Linked DNA regions of Homo sapiens: region 1 is linked to region 2. The links come from fine-mapping of genetic effects on gene expression. Tissue or cell type: whole blood. Region 2 holds a variant in brackets; the other region holds the start of a gene. All regions are shown on one strand. Distances are from middle to middle.

Region 1 (9,783 bases), 24 kb before region 2:
ACTTCTTAAGGTGCCTGGATCTCTGAGGTTTTTCCTGAGGATGAGGTCAGCAGCAGGGAGGAGGGGGCTCTGGCAGAGGCTGGTGCTTAGGAGGGAATTACCTAGTCCTTGCAGCAGCACACTGGATGCGCTATGACAATCCCCACTCTACAGCTCAGAGTGAGGCAGAGGCTGGTTGGAGACCAGGGCCAGGAGGGAGCCGGGTTTTCCAGCTCCCCATGGATAGTACGGCTGCACCCATGATCTAAAATGCTCCGTCCTGGGGTGTGCCCAGAGCTGTTATTCAGCAGGAGGCTGCTGGCTCGGCTATGCAGACTTTGCAGCCAGTGCTCCTTCTGCCTGCTGGTCCCATCTCCCTGGAGCCTTCAGCCTGCAGTGCCTGTGGCAGCAGCAGACTAGGATATGGTGTCATTGTGCCCCTGGGTGCAGCCAGGGACCCCTGGACTGCCTGGCTGAGGGGAGGCCTCCTTGGAGTGTCTGGCAGACCGTTGGGGTCCCCTGCCTGCCCACTGGACTCAGCAGCTGGTCATTGGAAGGTCTGGTTGTCCCCAGGCCACAGGCCTGTGGGCTGTCCTTGCCAGGCTGACCCTCCAGGCTGACTTCAAGGCCTGGGCCCCTTCCACAGGCAGGGGAGTAGGGGAGGGACCCTGTGGGTTGCACGTGTAGGCCCTGACCCCTGGTGACCGTGCTGGGTTCGGGGCAGGAGACAGGAGAGAATGCTCTGCCGTTTCTCACATTTTTCAGGCCTTTGGCTTTGGCCCTACACATTCCAGCCCCAAACCTCAAAGGCAGAAGTGAGGTGGGGCTTGCAGCCAGAAGGGAATCACAGGCCAGTGGTCTGGCAGGAAGCTGACCTTCAGCCTGGGTGAGCTGCAGGGGGCACCCAGGAGCCCCTCGGGAGAAGACAGCCCTGGAGCTACCTTGGCTGCCACCACTCACATGCCGCCCACGAAGCTGTCCCCAAGGAGGACCTGTGTCCTGGCTCTGCTCCTGACCAGCTGTGTGTCTTGCAGCAGATCACTGGCCCCTTGGGTCTACGGGAGCTGATCAGTGCCTCTCTGCTGCCTTCCTCTGCTGGCTAGGGCTGGGGGAGGCTCAGCTGAGAAAGGGTTTAAAGGACAGGAAGAATCATAGTGACAATCGTGATCAAAATGCTTCCCACTGTGCAGTCCTTACCGTGACCCAGCCCCTTCTAAGTGCTTCATCTAGGTTAATGGAAAGGACACAAGACTCCCAAACTCTTTGTTTAAATACAAAAGCTGGCAGAGTCGTGGGTTTTATTTTTACCTCCAGGCCTATGGGTGAAGAGGGAAGTTCCAGTGATGTTCTTCTGACTTAACAAAGAAAGCTTACAACTAATTCTGCCTTTGAGGAAACAGAGCTGTCTGTTTAAATATTCATATACCATGGCAGCAAATTATTAAGCCAGATAACCAGCCAGAATTACAGACCTTTTCAGGATTAAAGATGACTCTCTAGGATCTGGGAACCATGTCTGAAGTCAGGGGGTCTTAGAAGATTCCTTTGTCAGAAATAACATTGACAAGGGCAGTTTGACAAGCAGATTTGTATCTGCTCTGCCGTGGCTGCGGTGGCATGGAACATTTCCTTGTCCTTATCTTGATGAATTCAGAGGGTCTGAAGTTTTCAAGGGTTCTACCACTCCACAAAGAAGGTATGAAAAGCAACTTGAAGAAGCTCAAAACTTATCATTCGTAACGGAAAACAGCAGAATATAAATAGTGAGCTTATGTGGTGTTGCCACCTGCATGTACAGACAACGAGATGGGCATTATCATTATCCCCGCTTGGCGCAGGAGGAAGCGGAGGCTCAGGGAAGTTCACGACTTGGCTGGGGTCACACAGCAAGGAAGTAAGGGCTGCACTTGTGCAGATGGGGACTGTGGTCTCGGTGGAGTGTGTTGGGCTCCAGCGACGGGGCCCCAGGCTCAGCTGTTGCTTCCACTGAGCAGCTGTATTTGTTCCCTGCGGCCGCTATAATAAAAGACCAGAAACACAGTGACTACAACAGACATTTATTGTCTTACAGTTCTGGAGGCCAGAAGTCAGGAATGCGCCTCGCTGAGCTAAAATGAAAGTGATTCCCTTTCGAGCCTCTAGAGGAGAAGCCATTTCCTTGCCTTTTCCAGTTTCTGGATGCCGCCTGCACTCCTTGGCTCATGGTTCTTCCTCCAACTGCAGAGCCAGGAGTGTGGCATCTTCCACTCCCTCTCTGACTCTGATCTTCCTTCACTTATGGGGACCCATTTGATGACCTCAGGGCCATCCAGATAATGCAGGATAATCTCCCCACCCACCTCAAGATCCTGAATTTCATGGCGCCTGTGAAGTTTCTTTGCCATGTAAGGCCATGTACGCACAGGTTCCAGAGATTAGGGTGGATTTTTTTTGGGGGGTGAGAGGCACTATTCTGCCTATCACAGTGGCTTTGGCCAAAGGGTCTGACCTTTGGGATAATAGCCGTCCTCTCCACAGGGGGTTTGTTGGGAATGACAATAAAGTGATTCAGGCTTGTACTCCACAGGGAGTGACTGAGGTGCCTGCCAAGGGGCCAGTGTGTGCTGGAGCCTGGTGACCCGGTGAGAGACAAATGACTGCATCAGAACTCCTGCTTCTGCGAGGGAGGTAGTGCCCGAGGGGACTCAGAATCAGACAGATCAGGGGTTCAATCCCAGCTCTGCCTCCTCCTAGCAGCCTGAGTACGGGTGAGATCGGGGAGCAGGGACGGGCTGGAAGGGAGAAAACAAACAGATGCATTCACGTGACCTCATTTCACCTTCACCGCAGCCCTGCCAGGCAAATTTCTGTTCCCCCCAACCGCCCCGCCGTTTTGCAGAGGTGAAAACAACAGCTCAGAGAGATCAAGTGCCTTGTCTGACACCACACAGCTACTAAGTGGGGAGCTGGGATTCCCCATGCCCCAGGATTCCCAAACGGATGCCACCTACTCCACCTCCAGGGCTGTCTGCCACATCTGCGTCCTCCTAGGCTGTGGCTTCCTTAATATGTTCTTTAAATTGACTTACTGCCTTTTTTATTTAAATGCATTTCTTTTAAAATGAGACTTTATATTACTCCTATAAATGGAAAATCACAGGATTCATGGACTAGTTATGTATATTTTTATAATGCACATTAAAATGAATTTATCACCATAAAAAATGAGAAATGTTTACCCATAGACCATGTACAATTATTCCACATGCTGTCAGTGTGTTTCATCCCTCTCTTTGGGAGTTGGCTTTGCACCTGTCCTGGTTTCACCAAATCACAATGTTATGAATGGCTATCATTTATTATGGTAGGAAATCGTCAAATGGCTTCTGTGCACAATCAAATGCAGACTCCCCAGCATGGCCTCAGGGCCCTCCTGGCCCCTGGTTTCCTGATCTCCAGTTCCTCTGGTCTTGCTACTCTTAGACAAAGGAGGACTTCTCTTGGTTTTCTGCCTACCCAGCCAGAAGATCCCAGGCCATGGGCCTGTGGAGCCAAAGTTCTTAACCACTGCACTGTGTCACCTTTCTATGATGTCAGGCCTCAGCAAGGCTTATGAAGGAACAGGAACAGCCTTGAAAATGAAGTTGGGAAGGGATAGGCCAGGCCTCCCAGGAGCCCAAAGCTTGCAGAGTCCCCTTGGTCTCATTGGCACATGGAGAATGGATTGATCAAGTCCACCAATCAAGTTTTGTGGGTCTAACAGAGCAACTCCTGCCAAGTGGGAGGAGCTTAGGGACTTTCTATAACCTCTCCTGGGGCAGAAATGATGGGCTGCAGCAGTGTCCAATCCTAACTCCATGATCTCCTGGGAGGGCAGGGCTTCATGGCAGTTCCTGTCTGCTCTGCACTAGAAGCTTGGCATTGCAAAGGGGCTCAGCTGTGGAATGAAGCAGGGCTTCTTCCAGAAATGTTGCATGTACTTCCTATTCCCTTTCTTTATTGCAATATGGATAATTTATCATCTGAGGAGGGAGTAGAGATTCCAGGGTAGCTTGCCTAAGAGTTGTGGCTTATTAATTCCAACTTTTTGCAAGATCAAGGGGGAAAAGCAATCCCTGATTTTGTGTGAGTATGGGGATTGGGTCTTGAGGCCCTGAAAGTGAGGTTCGGGTCTCACAGATTGCTGTGAAGAGTTATTGACCCACCTAGAAGAGAAGCCTAGCCCAGGGCCTGGCGCACAGTTGATGGGTTTGCTTCCTGGTTATTCTTCCGTCCTTGTCTGGAGCCCTGCACGCCTCTTCGTAGCTTAGGAAGAACAAGCTTCTCCCTGCGGCTCAGGGTGAGGAAGTGGGAGAGAACACCAGCTCCAGGGAGGCTTCTAGCACCAGTCAGCCTCAGTTAAAATCCTTGCACCTTCATTGACTAGCTGTGTGACCTTGCACGAATCATTCCCCCTCTCTGTGCCTCAGTTTCTTCATCTGTAAAATGGGGATCATAATAGTACCTCTCTCAAAGGATTGAGGTGAGGATGAAAGGAGTGAATCCAGGAGCATGCCTGGAAGAGGCAGGAAATGCCTCCTAGACAATAGCTATTTTTGCAGCCAGACAGATCTGGGTTTGAATTCTGCCACCAGTGCTAACTACTGTGTGATTTGGGGCAAGTGCCTTGACCTCTCTGGACAGCTGTTTCCTCATCTGGAAATGGGCTTGGTAACAGTCCTGGCTTCCAAAGTTGGTAGTGTTCTTCTAGTAAGCAAGCTGTGTGAAACGGTGGAACCCTGGCCCTGGTGCAGAGAAGGGCATGATGACCGTGTTAGGGTCTGTCCTCTCTGGAACCCCCTCCTGGGAATGGCAGAGGGCAGTGGGGTGCTCTGAGGCAGGCTGCTGCCCTGTCCCCACTCCCCCTCCCCAGCTGCCCCGCCCCAGCTGTGACGACCTTGTCCCTGCCTGTCTAAGGGGCAGGAAGGAAGTGAGGAGGGCAGCCAGCAGCTTCCCCTTCTCTGCCCTGCTCCAGGCACCAGGCTCTTTCCCCTTCAGTGTCTCAGAGGAGGGGACGGCAGCACCATGGACCCCCGCTTGTCCACTGTCCGCCAGACCTGCTGCTGCTTCAATGTCCGCATCGCAACCACCGCCCTGGCCATCTACCATGTGGTGAGTGTGCGGGCCCCGGGTGTGTGTGCGTGCGTGCTTGTGTGAGTGTGAATGTCTGCGGTGACCCGTCATCTACGGAGCCCCACAAATGAAAGAACTCCTGCTCTCCACCTCTCTGGGGGACCCTGGGCAAATCCCTGTCCTGCTCTGGGCCTCAGTTTCCTTCTCTGTCAAATGGCTGGGGGTACCCTGGGGAGATGCCGCAAGAGTGAGGAGTAAGGGAGCTGGAATCCACTTTCCAGGCAAATGTAACTGACGTTCACTCCGAGGCTGGCTCCGTTTCTGCCTCTGTGAGATGGGGCACAGCAGCAGCCGGAAGGTTATTTGTGTGCAAAGCCAACAGCAGATGTGAAAGTGCTTTGGAAGGCAGGGATCTTGGGAGGAACGTGGGCTGGGATTGTTTGACCGGGATGTGAGGTCGGCCGCAGACACAGCCCCGATTCTTCCCCTGGGGCCTGGAGGGAGCCTGGGCCACTCGAGGGGATGAGAAGTGGGGATCTCCCCTTTGTGCCTCCAGTGGGGAGGCAGGGGCCGTGTCCTCTCAGCTTCCAGCTCAGTCAAACCACGGCCTTCTGCCCACCAAAGAGAACTTGAGACCTGTGCTAATCATTAGGGTAACTTGTCCGGCCCAAGCTCTTGTTGGGCAACTTGTGAAGTCACGGCTGTCACTGGTTCCTCCTTTCCTGGTGACTCACAGTGTGGTCTTGGGCAAGTCACAGTGCCCGGGGGCCAAGGCTGCCCCTCTGCCTGGGGTGGCTGAGGGTCAGTGTCCTTGTACTGTCCTGCCTAGACCCACCCTACTCCCAAACTCCTGGCCACACTCATCTCCCCTAGACCCAAGCGACTTCCTCCTGGGGTGACTCAGGGCCTGTGGTTAACAGTTTTCTCATGAGTCTGGAAGGGCTTCCTCAAAATTAGCCTAGATCCACATGCTGCGGTGGGTTGCTGCAAACTCAGACCTGCCTGCGTCTGCTTCCTGTCACAGGCAGGGCAGGCAGAGCTGTGGCAAGAGCCCAGCCTTCAGGGGGGCGATGCTGTTCAGTGGTTAGCCCACGGCCTCTGGATGCAGACTCCTGCATGCAAATCCTGGCTTCCCTGCTTCCCAGCTCTGCAGCCTTGGGCAATTTACTTAACCTCTCTGAGCCTCAGTTTTCTCATTTAAAAAAATGGGGATGTGAATTATCATACCCATCTGATAGGGTTTGTTGTGAGGCTCAGGGAGTTGATACATACAAAGCATGCAGAACCACGCCTGACGCACAGGTGAGTGCTTTATTATTCGTTGTGCATCAGACATGGCACCTGCTGTCAGCATCCTTGGAGTCAAGTTGTCAGATTCAAGGACTCTAGTTTTGGGAGGAGGAACTCAGAGGTTGTCCTTCCGAGCTCCTGCCAATGCAAGAGCTGAGAGAAGCAAATCACTCTTTGAGTGTCCCTGTACCCTGTATTTTAGGCCTTCAAGCTCTGAGACTATGCACATTCTTAGAAGGACAGTGTGGCATGCAGGGGCGCCTCACAGGTAGCAAGTCCCTGGGTCCTCACCCCAGCCCTGCCACTAACTGGCTGTATGGGCTCAGACAAGCCTCTCTCTGGGCCTCAGTTTCCCTTTTATAAAGTCAGGGGTAAGGTGATGTTGACTGGCTCAGAGGTCTCCAACTCTGATGCCTCTAGGGTCTGGGCAGGCCATGTGAGTGACAGCAGGGGGCAGATGGGGCCTGCGGTGACCCCGGGAGCCCTTGCTTGGCCCACCCTGCAGCTGTTCTCTGTTTTTGCTTGTTGTTGCCACGAAGGATTGTGGGCCCTGGTGGCCGCTCTTCTGATGTTTAGAGAATAGGGAGCAGGCTTTTGTGTCACATCTTCTGATGTTTCAATGCTAGTGATTGATGCATGGTAGAAAAAAATCTCAGTGCAGGCCAAGTCAAATCCATTTGCAGGTTGTGTGGGCCCAGAGGCTGCCCTGCAAACCCGGGACTGTGGGGCTGTTAAGGTTTCTTGTTGATCGTGCCATCCGATGTCCTCACCTGTAAATGGTGGTGTGATATACGGTCCCTGCTCACAGAGCTGAAGAATGTGTGGGCCCTAGCAATCATGGAAGACTTCTTGGAGGTGGTGCCATTGGCAGGAGGGAGAGTTTGGTTGTGGGCAGTATGGAAGGTGAGGAGAAACAGGTGAGCAATGGCGTATGTGTTCGGCTTCTACAGGGACACAATAGAGACAAACCTGGAGTTTGGGGAGGAGGTGATAAAGGTTTTGAGTGACAAGCTAAGAAGTTGGATCTTCTCTGCAGTGCACCATTGATATTTTGGGCTGGATAATTCTTCATCTTGGGGGAGTGAATTGTGCGTTAGAGGAAGTTCAGCAGCATCCATGGTCTCTACCTACTAGATACTAGCAGCACTGCCCATCTCCCTACCCTGCCACTTGTGATAACCAAAAATGTCTCTAGTTATGGGGCCCAATCTCTCCCAGTTGAGAACCAATGCCTATGAGTGATGAGACGTTCTAGAGCAGGAGCAAGCAAAAGAGCAGAGGGGTGTCCTGGAAGCTGTGCGCTCGGCCCAGGTTGTCTCCAGGCTGTGGTCCTCAGTTGACTCCAGTGGGGGGTTATCTTCCTGCACCCCGAAAGAGTCCTCTCTCCTTCCCAGAAAGGGCAGGGCCTGGGGGCTTTCCCATAGGCTAGCTGGCAACAGGTGTGCTGATAGGACCTTGAGCATCTGGATGGAAAAAGAGAAGCTGTGGTCCAGATGTGTCAATAGCCCATGCTGGCTGTCATCTGGACCCAGCCATGGGTGACGACTCTGCACATCATGAGCTATTTGTGGACTTGGCCCCTCTAGGGAGGGTTAAATTGAGACCTTGCCATCCTGAGACAGTGCCACGCTCTATTGAGTCATGAGGGCGTTATTACATGAGGGAAGCCTGGTCCGTAGCTTTGGGCTCGGGCATCTTCCTCAGGATGTCAGTGGGTTTGTGTAGAGGATTCTCTGGGTCACCCAAACTTGCACACTTTGGGAACCCAGCAAACTTTCTTTCTTTTTTTAAAAAATCTATTCTTTTTTTCAAAGTTCAGTAACTTGCCCATCTTTTGTGGTTTGATTTGTTTTGTTTTGTTTTTGTTTTTAAGAGATGGGGTCTTGCTCTGTCACCCAGGCTGGAATGCAGTGGTGCCATCACAGCTCACTGCAGCCTTGAACTCCTGGGTTCAAGAGATCCTCCCACCTCAGCTTCCTGAGTAGCTAGGATCACAGGCGCATGCCACCATGGCCAGCTAATTTTAAATATTTTTTTTTGTAGAGACAGGGTCCCACTATGTTGCCCAGGCTGGTCTCAAACCCTTGGCCTCAAGTGATTCTCCTGCCTTGGCCTCCCAACGCGCTGGGATTACAGGCATGAGCCACCGAGCCCAGTCTAGAGAAATTTCTTAAATTGGGTCTCTTGGGTCCTGGCTTTTTGTCAACCTGAAGCACGTTCTAAGTCGATGGTAGAAAGTGGACACCCCCAGAAGACACTTTTGCCCAGAAATCTCTTTCTTCCTGACCCCTCTTCCCCAGAGTGCCCGGAATTCCACTGTCAGAAATGCATTGTCTGGGTTAAAAAACTTAACACCTGCTATGATTTCAACAGTGTCAAAACAGGATACGTCAAAACTGGGCGAGGAGGAAATGTATTTGGGTTCTAGGATAGTGAAAGCTCTATTTTTTCTACTTTTCTGTATTTTCCATATTTGGTACAATGAGCACGTACTTAGAACGGTTTTAGATTTACGAAAATATTGCAAACACAGTACAGATAGTTCTTGCGTCCCCCATGCCTAGTTCCTCTATTGCTAACGTCTCAACGTTAGTGTGGTGCGTTTGTTGCAATGGGTGAATGAATATTCGTGGGCTGTTATTAAAGTCAGTGCTTCACCCCTATTTCCCCAGCTTTCCTCTTACATCCTTTTTCTGTTCCAAGATTGCATCCAGGATGCCGCGTTACATTTAGTCTTCACACTTCCTTAGGTTCCTCTTGGTATGATGGTTTCTCAGATTTTTCTTGTTTTTGATAATCTTGACAGTTCGAGGAGTATTTGTCAGGCATTTTGTCAAATGTTCTTCAACTGGGGTCTCTGGTGGTTTTCTCATGATTAGTCTGGGAATGTGCTTTTGGGAGGAAGACCACAGAGATGATGTGCCAGTCTCAGAACATCGTACTAAGAAAAGGTTCTGCCAACTTGACTTACCACTGTTGCTGGTGACTTTGAGCCCCCGGCTGAGGTTACTCCTTTGTAAAGTTACTCTTTTTTTCTCCTTTCCATGCTGTATGTTTTAGAAGGAAGTCACTATGCTGCTCCAAGCAACTCAAGTTTGATGAATGGGGAGTTCCGCCCCACCTCCTTGAGGGCAGAGTAGCTACATAAATTACTTGGAATTTCTCAAGGAGATTTGTCTGTACTCCCAGTTTATTATATAAATAAATGATTTATTTATATTACAGGGACCCAGGGATCTTTACTGTATGCTTTGGGTTATAATCCAATGGTACTTTACTTTGTGGCTCAAGTATACTACTTTTAAATTGGAAAAAAAAAAAAGTACGGCCAGGTGCGGTGGCTCATGCCTGTAATCCCAGCATTTTGGGAGGTTGAGGCGGGTGGATCACTTGAGGTCAGGACAAAACCCTGTCTTTACTAAA
Region 2 (9,783 bases):
TCTGGTGGGGCTGCACCAGAGATGGTACCTGGGGCTGTGGACAACTGAGGGCTTGATTAGATCTGAAGGATGAACTCCTGGTGGCTCACTCACAGGGCGTGGGCTCTTTGCCTAATTCCTCATCCTGTGGACTTGTAGTAGTGCTGCTTGAGTGCTCTCCTGACATGGCTGCTGGCTTCCCCTGCGGGAGTGATGTAAGAGATAAGCAAGGAGGAAAGGCAGTGTCTTTTAAGACTTCTATCACTTCTGCCACATTCTGTTAGTTAGAAGTGCGTTGCTAAGTCCAGCCCACACTCAAGGGGAGAGGAAATAAACACCACCTTTAGAAGGGAGGCGTCTCAAAGAATGTGTGGTAATATTTGCAAATGACCACAGAGGCAGTCTCACCTAGGGCGAGTTCCCCTGCATCAGTCATTGGTTTCAAGCTGCCCCTAGGGGAGGGAATGTAACCTCCCAGGTATTAGTGGATTAGGTGGTCCCTGTCAGCCAAAATGATCTTGTAGAGAAGAGCATAGGTGTGGCCCATGGGCAGCTGACACCTGCCAGCTGGGGATGGGCCGGTGCGCCAGCCTGGGAAGCAGATCTGGAGATAGTAGCCACTTGGCTTTTCTTGGTTTGCCCGTCAGTGGGATGGGGCTGAAGGTAGCACCTGCTTCCTAAGGCTGCTGTGGCGGTCGACCAAGGTGACGGCTGTGCCACGCTGTGCTCGTGTGTGTGTGGAGGGTGGGATCATTATTCCCGGATGTGTGGGTGCTGTTGGAATTCCTTATGTCCAGAGACATTGATGTGGCCCCCAAATCTGTTGCAGAATTACCTCCCCAGCCAGGAGGATATGCCTCATAACCAGTTCATCAAGATGATGATCATCTTTTCCATCGCCTTCATCACTGTCCTTATCTTCAAGGTGAGTGGATCCCTGCCCTGCGGCTCTGGGAGGGGTGGTGAGGCTGTGCTGGGCCCAGGCCTGCCCATGCCAAGCTGTTAGAAGGCAGGGACATGTGTCCTCCATGCCTCCTCTCCTGCTTTTAGCTCCTTTCTCTTGCTTTCCCATGCCAGCTCCTCTGACTTTACTTGGGATCCTCCGAGACAGCCCATTTAGGGCATGTGAATCCGTAAAGGCCACCTGCGTTCAGATGTCTAATTCCAGCTGTCTGGAATTAGATTTGGACTGGCCTGCGTTTGAATCCAAGCCCCACTGTCACTAGCTGCGTGGTTGGTCTTCAGCAAGTCACTTCTCTCTGGGCCTCAGGGGCAGGAGTCTTGTTTTGCCTGTGTTACAGTTTTATGTAATTCAGGCATCAAAATGTACCTGAGATTATGTTAATAGAGGTTTGGTGATGAGAAGGCAGGAGGGGAATGGTCTCATTCTTCTCTGGGGTGGTCAGGCCCAGAGGATAGGGTCCAGCTTCAGGTCCCAGGTCTGAGTGATGGTGAAGCACTGGAGTGTGTTCACAGCAGTACAACCAGCAACGTGAAGAGACAAGAAAACGCTGCCATCTTAGGAAGTCAAAAAACCCCCACAAAACCCAACAAAGACCTGAGCGTTTATTCAGCATGGAAAATAGAGGACTCAAGGGGGACCTGACTGCTGTTTCTTAATACCTGAAGAACTCTTGTGGGGAATTTTGTGGGATCCTAGAGGCCACAATGGGGGCCTGTGGCCTGAAGCCACAGGGATGCTGATGACCACAGAAGGAAGGGCTTTTAAAAAGTGTTCTTTTCTGATTATAAAAGTAACATAGGTCATAGTAGAAATTTAAAAACTACAGATGAGCTGGATGTGGTGGCTCACATCTGTAATCCCAGTGCTTTGGGAGGCTGAATTGGGAGGATTGCTTGAGGCCAGGAGTTCAAAACCAACCTGGGCAACATAGCAAGATTCTGTCTCTACAAAACATAAAAAAAAAAAAGTTGGATGTGGTGGCGTGTGCCTGTAGTCCCAGCTACTAGGGAGGCTGAAGCGGGAGGATCGCTTGAGCCTGGGAGGTTGAGGCTGCAGTGGGCCATAATCATGCCACTGCACTCCAGCCTAGGCGACAGAGTGAGAATCTCTCTCTAAAACAAAAAACAAAAACCAAAAAACTACAGATAAGTAGAAAGAAGACAAGCACTCCACCATCCACACCCCACACAGAGAGCATCACTGCTGACAACTGGGTGCATTTCCCCCCAGCCTTTCTGTGGTGGTGGGTGGGCATCTGCAGACCCCAGCTCCTGCTTCCATCTGAGGCCCTGGGCAGTCTCTGCTGTCACCTAATGCCAACCTAGAAACAGAACCTTGCCCCTTTTAGCATCTTCTCCAAGGACTGACCTAGCACAAACGCACTAGTGAGTGTACAGTGAGAACACCCCTGAAGGCCTCATGGGGGAAGCCAGTGTGGGCTTTCCATGGCACTCTCTACTGCAGGACCCCTCCGCAGACCCCAGCACACAGCTCCGTCCCCCAGCTCCCCTTCTGTTTTTTATCCTCCAGAATGAGGGGCTTCCCTCTTTGACCCTCATTCTGCCTCTCTGGCCCCCTCCACCGACTTGATTTTCCCTGGGCCTTCATGCTTCATTCTTTGTCACTCCGTACCTCCATATGTCTCCTTGCCCCACCTATGTGCCCATCAGGGAATCCATCAAACAAGACCTTCCAGTACAGGACCCTCTCCTCTTACTCAGGGGGCATCCTGGGGGTTTTCTGTTGTTTCTTGAGCTTGCCCCTTGGGATTGTATGCCCCACTCTGGAAAGCTTCTGCCCAATTCTTACATTAACTTGCATCAGCTGATGGACATGTACTAACTGTTCCTCCTTTATAAACATGGACCAATACTGCACATGCTGTTTTGTAATCTGCTTCAGAAAACAACATATCGGAAGCAATTTTGAAGAAAACATGTCCCACCATCAGCTCTGTTTCGAGATGGGCAGGGCTGTCTCAGGAGGTAGTGAGCTTCCAGGCAGTGTGGGCAGTCAAGCAGGAGCTGTGGGACTATTGCCAGGGAAATTGGAGGGTGGGCTAGAAGCCCCCCAAATCCCCTTGCTATGTGGTATCTGTGGGGCAATGAAAAGGGCAATACCTGGAATATTCTGGACTGGCTGGTGAGGAACCCCCAACCAGAATGAGAGGTCCGAGCAGGAGCAGCTGGATGCTGGCTTCTGGAGAGAGTGGTGGCTCCTGCCTGGCATATGTCCTAGGCCTGCTGGAGCGTGAGAAGGACGCTCAGCAAAGCACAGCCTGACCTGGGCCTTTTTCCAGGTCTACATGTTCAAGTGCGTGTGGCGGTGCTACAGATTGATCAAGTGCATGAACTCGGTGGAGGAGAAGAGAAACTCCAAGATGCTCCAGAAGGTGAGTGTGGCTGCAGGTGGGTGCCAGCCCTGTCACTAACTCCCTGTGCCATTTGGGTCAAGTTTCCTTCCCTCTCTGGACCTTGGTTTCTCTATTTGTAAGATGAGGGTTGGAACAGAAGAAATGTGTTCTCTTTCAGTTCTGGTAGTCTAAGATTCATTCACTCACTCATTCATTTATTCAGTATTTACTGCCTCTCACTCTTTGCTAGTCTCATATCGATTCCAGGAGGCGCAGAGAAAACTAAGATGCCACCTCTGCCTTAGAGGAGTGTACAGTTCAGACACATAGATACAATTACAACTTGGTGTGAAGCACAGGGACAATAAGCACAGAGGAAGGACCTGGCCTCTTCTCAGGTATCAGGGAAGCCTTCCTGGAGGAGGTGACAGTTAACTGGTCTTGGAGGGTCAATGGATATGAGATAGCTGGGAAAGCAGAAGGAGGCTTTCCGGGAAGAGAGGATGAGGTGTGCTTAGAAGCAGCTTATTGGAAAGTGACGGTTTAAATTCCTGGTAACTTACTTTCCTCACCTGTAAGGTGGAGATTGTATTAGCTAAGACACTTTTGGTTGCAAGTGGCAGAAACCCAACTCAATCTGACTTCAGGAATTTACTAGCTCACAGAACTTAGCAGCCAAATGTAGGTCTGGCTTGGGCCTGGCTGAGTCCTGACATCAGGATATGATCTCGTCCTCTCCAACTCTTGACTCTACTTTCCTTGATGTTGGCTTCATTTTCCGGAAGCCCATCCCTTGTGGTGGCAAAAAGGCTGCCAAAACCCCTAGGCAGATATCCCACCCTCTCAGAAATCCCAACAGAAAAAGAAGGTCCCAGGAGTATGTCTGATTGGACCAACTTGGGCCACGTGCCTATCCCCAAACCAAGGACTATAGCCAGGGGGATGGAATTCTACTTTGAGTGGCCAAGTCCAGCCACCTCGCTGGATCTGAGGGATGGGACCAGTTCTTCTGAAGGTATATGGACTGAGAATGTTTTCCCAAGGAAAATGGTGCACTGTTTTCAAAATAAGGGGGACTTGATGCTGAATAGGCAAAGGCAAATATGTCCACTACAGGGCTGGGAACTGCACCTATCTCATGCAGGCAATGTCTAGCACATAGCAAATATCCAAGACCTGCCAGTCATTATCATCATCATTTTGCCAGAGGTGGGGGTTTGGGTCCCATGACCCCAGGTTGGAATTGCAGGTCATTCTTGACCATACTCAGCCCTCATCTCTCTGTCTCTCCCAGGTGGTCCTGCCGTCCTACGAGGAAGCCCTGTCTTTGCCATCGAAGACCCCAGAGGGGGGCCCAGCACCACCCCCATACTCAGAGGTGTGACCCTCGCCAGGCCCCAGCCCCAGTGCTGGGAGGGGTGGAGCTGCCTCATAATCTGCTTTTTTGCTTTGGTGGCCCCTGTGGCCTGGGTGGGCCCTCCCGCCCCTCCCTGGCAGGACAATCTGCTTGTGTCTCCCTCGCTGGCCTGCTCCTCCTGCAGGGCCTGTGAGCTGCTCACAACTGGGTCAACGCTTTAGGCTGAGTCACTCCTCGGGTCTCTCCATAATTCAGCCCAACAATGCTTGGTTTATTTCAATCAGCTCTGACACTTGTTTAGACGATTGGCCATTCTAAAGTTGGTGAGTTTGTCAAGCAACTATCGACTTGATCAGTTCAGCCAAGCAACTGACAAATCAAAAACCCACTTGTCAGTTCAGTAAAATAATTTGGTCAAACAACAGTCTATTGCATTGATTTATAAATAGTTGTCAGTTCACATAGCAATTTAATCAAGTAATCATTAATTAGTTACCCCCTATATATAAATATATGTAATCAATTTCTTCAAATAGCTTGCTTACATGATAATCAATTAGCCAACCATGAGTCATTTAGAATAGTGATAAATAGAATACACAGAATAGTGATGAAATTCAATTTAAAAAATCACGTTAGCCTCCAAACCATTTAATTCAAATGAACCCATCAACTGGATGCCAACTCTGGCGAATGTAGGACCTCTGAGTGGCTGTATAATTGTTAATTCAAATGAAATTCATTTAAACAGTTGACAAACTGTCATTCAACAATTAGCTCCAGGAAATAACAGTTATTTCATCATAAAACAGTCCCTTCAAACACACAATTGTTCTGCTGAAGAGTTGTCATCAACAATCCAATGCTCACCTATTCAGTTGCTCTGTGGTCAGTGTGGCTGCATA[A/G]CAGTGGATTCCATGAAAGGAGTCATTTTAGTGATGAGCTGCCAGTCCATTCCCAGGCCAGGCTGTCGCTGGCCATCCATTCAGTCGATTCAGTCATAGGCGAATCTGTTCTGCCCGAGGCTTGTGGTCAAGCAAAAATTCAGCCCTGAAATCAGGCACATCTGTTCGTTGGACTAAACCCACAGGTTAGTTCAGTCAAAGCAGGCAACCCCCTTGTGGGCACTGACCCTGCCACTGGGGTCATGGCGGTTGTGGCAGCTGGGGAGGTTTGGCCCCAACAGCCCTCCTGTGCCTGCTTCCCTGTGTGTCGGGGTCCTCCAGGGAGCTGACCCAGAGGTGGAGGCCACGGAGGCAGGGTCTCTGGGGACTGTCGGGGGGTACAGAGGGAGAAGGCTCTGCAAGAGCTCCCTGGCAATACCCCCTTGTGTAATTGCTTTGTGTGCGACAGGGAGGAAGTTTCAATAAAGCAGCAACAAGCTTCTGTCTGGCTGATGTGTTTCTGGAAATACAGTGTAGGGAGGGTGGAGACCAGCCTTCTACCTCCATCACCCCAGGACTCACCCACACCCCCTACACCCACACCCCTCCACACACTCACACCCACCCCCACACACCCACAAATACACCCAAACACCCACACTCCCCCCACATACCCACACACTCACACCCTCCCCACACCCCTCCACACACTCACTCCCACCGCCTACACACCCACACACCCCCCATATACCCACACACTCACACCCCCCACACCCCTCCACACACGCCCACCCCCACACACCCATGTAAACACTCACACATACCTAGTTGCTCCATCCAGAAACTCCTCCCATGGGCCATGCTGAGCGAGGGGTGGTCCTGACCCAATGCTGTCTGATCATGAACCACAGCCCAAGATGATGCACCCTGATGTCTCCCTAATCAGGCGTGCACTCCACTCCCCTGGGGCTGGGTCCTGCTCTGGACACTGGGGAAGACCTCAACAGATGAGACTCGCCTCCAGTTCCCCCCAGTCTGCGGTAGGAGGGACAGATCTGCAAAAGGGCTGCCACGATAGGGAAAGCCTAGGGGACCTCAGACGTGGCCTGAGGGCCAGAGAAAGCCTCTTGGAGGCTGTCACCAAGTGGAGTCTGAAGGATGAGAAGGCAGCAGTAAGCAGAATGGGAAGGGTGCTCTAGGTCTAGGTAGCAGGACACGCAAAGACTCTATGGCATTGGGGAGAGGAGCTGGGGCGAGCTGCTCAGCGTGGCTGCAAGTGGGGAGGGGAGGGAGAAGAGGTCGGCCCGCTGTGGGGCTGGGTCAGGAAGAGTGTTTGCACACAGTGGGGCTCTTTAGGTGCAAGCTCACCCTGGCTAAGTTCAGCCAAGAAGGGAATTTACAGGAAGGACATGGTTGCAAGTAACAGAAGCCTTATGAGCCAAGTTTATTATGAGAAACCAGAAGGTGGTTCACGATGTTTCTTGGCTCTCATACAAATAAAAAATCCAGGGATTTTTGGCTTCAGGTATGGCAGGATCCAGGACTACAACTCTTTAATAATGTCTCTCTGTTTCTCCATCTCTTATCTTTTCTCCCCGGTGTGGCTGAGCTGTTGAGGACTTACCTGAAAGTAAAGTTAATAAAGAGACCAGGGCTGTTTGAATTGGGATCTGTCACCAATACCAAAAGAGCCCTCAGAGCCTTGAATGTCACACCGAGGAACATGGACTAATCCTGAGACAGGTGTCTTTGAAGGATTTTGGGCCAAGGAGTTACAAGGTTTGGGTTTTAGGAAGGAAGAGCCCAAATGCAGGGACCCCTACAAAGGCTGGGGAAGTCATCCTATGGGGCGGCAGGGACGGGGATGAGTTTGAGAGGCATTGTCAACCTTCTGGTGGTGTCAGTTTTTTTGTGGAATGGCAGATTTCTTCATGGATGTTATTTGCTCCTTATCAGACCCCCAAGCAGTTGGTGCAGTGTAATTCACAGAAATGGAAAGCGAGCTCCTGTTCACACTTGAGGGCAGAGGCCCAGAGACATCAAGTGACTTTCCTGAGGCCACACAGTGGTCAGAGATGAGACCAAGCACCTTTTTTTTCTACTCCGAGTGGAGGCTTTTAGACGGGCTGGGGCCCAGTCTGTGTCAGTTGTTGCTTCTTGCAAAGACCCATGGGAAGAGGGCCCGCTGAGAAGCCCCGGCAAGTGTGGATTGGGAGCAGAGGTCACGGGAGGAGAGACATTGGCCCAGCCTTGCATCCTATCACAAGGAGATTGAAGGGCCATGGCTGCGTGTGTCACAAGGACCAGGAGGCCCTGAACTTCCCGGCGCGACTCTCCCGTCCTTCCCGCCTTCCCCGACTCCCACCTCTGGCCTGGAGCCGAAGAACAGGCTGAGCTGTGTAGTGGGATTGTGCCCTGTGGCCAGGCAGCTGGGAGGGGGCCACCCGAGGGACAGGAAATAGCTGGGTTTGGGGAAGTCCGCATGGCTAGCCAAGCCAAGCGAGCCCACGATCGCCTGGGCAGCCCTCACTGAGGCCCTATCAATGCCCCGTTTGAGGCTCACACAGGGGTCCTTTGACGGGGCTGCGATGGTTTGGACCCACTGACAGCGCCTGTTTGAGCTTCATGCCTGGAAAGGAGCCGGCCCCAGGACAGAGGGGGCTGCTTCCAGGCCTGGGCAGGTGAGGGCAGCCTGGAGTGGTTGTCTCTTGGAGGGAAAAAAGAGCTGGTAAAATTAAACCTGGGGTGCTAAGCGGGGCAACTTCAGGTTTCTCGGGAGCTGTGATGGTAGCAGGAAGGGTCCCCGTAATTGAGTGGGCCCTTCAGTGTGCTGGCTCCACAAAGCTCCCAGTGGCCTCACGCAGCAGGTGCTGGGTGGTGATCATTCCTGAGGTTCAGGGAGGGGCTGCCTCTGCCCACAGTCACGCATTGGCCAAGGGGCAGACCTGGGCTTGGACTTCAGTCCACCCAAATGGACCTGAGCTTGTCTCTCTAGACCTTTCTGGGTAACCTCGCCCTTCCTCTGGGAATTTCTACCTCACAAGGCCCTCATTTAATTCCTATTCCAGGCTCTGAGCCCTCTTGGGAGGGCCCTGGCAGAAGCAGGAGGCCTCAGAGGCAGCAGGGAGCTTTTGGATGTTGCGGACCCTCGGATGGTGGTGCCCAGCTCTGAGCAGAGGATGCGAAACGGGGGATGGCAAAGGATGCATCGCGTTTTGGTGGGGCTAGATTTGCGCTTCCTTGGGGGACATATAATGGGAGGTGCTCAGGAAGCAGCTGGGTCTCTAGGTCTGGAGTTTAGGAGAGCGAGGAGGGAGGCAGGTTGAGATGTGAGTGCTATCTTTGGACATGTGGGTGGGATATCAGGTTGGGCTGGTATCACCCAGGTGTTAACCCATCAGAAGGATGTGCTGCTGCTCCGTGGCCTCCCCAGACAGGCCGGCAGATGAAAGCACACGCCTCCTCACCCTGGATTCCAGTTTGGCTGACCATGCGTGGGGCCTGAGACCAAGATAGCACATGGGAGGTGTCATGAACCACATGTGACACCTCAGATCATGGGGTCTGTGGCCCGAATGGGGCCTGGGCAGGAGGAGCAGCCCAGCTGCACTGCAGGCTCCTGGATGGGGCGATGAGCATGGCCACTTTGCAGGTGAGGAATCTGCCCTGTGACTGTGGGCCCCTCCACATCTCTGCCTGACTTTTGGGAAGACCAGAGATTCATGTCCAATCCGGTACTCTGGCAGTGTCTCCAATTTGCAATGAAACCGTTTAAGTGTCAAGAAAAGCAGTCAGGTTAAAGGAAGTCAGGGGCAGGACCCACCCTCGGGTTCTCCTTGGGTCTTTGGGTGGCAGCAGGGCCTCTGCGGAGGGTATAAGCAGCAGCCACTGTGTGTCTCTGCAGCCACAGGCCTTGCCCGCTGCCCTCCCGGATGGGCTCTCTGGGAACCAGTGCTCACATTCCAGTCTGTCTCCCGGGTCCCAGGAAGAAGTCTCCCTAATTAGCCACCAAGAGCACGCCGATGGTCAGTGGGCATAGCAGAGAGCTGCTGGCACGAGGGAGCCACAGTTCTAAATAAATAAACAACATCCACCTGGGAAACAATTTTGCTGCCATCTCAGTGGCCCAGATAGTCGAACAGAACACTCGCCTGCTGCTTCCTCTGCTCTATGTGCTGGGAGGACATGCGAGGCTGGAAAACAGCTGGGCCAAGGCCTGGAGATGTGACCGGGTATCCTGAGAAAA

Evidence for each region. PIP is the estimated chance that this variant, and not a neighbour inherited with it, causes the effect.
Region 1: LAPTM5 starts here. The variant in region 2 is fine-mapped to the expression of LAPTM5 in whole blood (TOPMed, PIP above 0.99).

What each region holds. Positions count from the first base shown.
Region 1 is chr1:30,752,985-30,762,767 of GRCh38, reverse strand. LAPTM5 (lysosomal protein transmembrane 5) reads left to right here and starts at 4,994. Exons shown (of 8, transcript NM_006762.3): 1 at 4,994-5,109. The coding sequence starts at 5,023. RefSeq lists enhancers at 3,845-3,914, 4,983-5,262, 5,391-6,187, 6,853-6,902, 7,374-7,723.
Region 2 is chr1:30,728,725-30,738,507 of GRCh38, reverse strand. It overlaps LAPTM5 (lysosomal protein transmembrane 5), which reads left to right. Exons shown (of 8, transcript NM_006762.3): 6 at 809-904; 7 at 3,243-3,335; 8 at 4,591-6,039. The coding sequence ends at 4,680. Among named protein-coding and RNA genes, the nearest start is that of MIR4420, 5.6 kb to the left of the region's middle. RefSeq lists enhancers at 4,683-5,184, 5,225-5,730, 5,731-6,236, 7,906-8,015, 8,166-8,295. The variant A/G (reference allele first, on the strand shown) is at 5,559.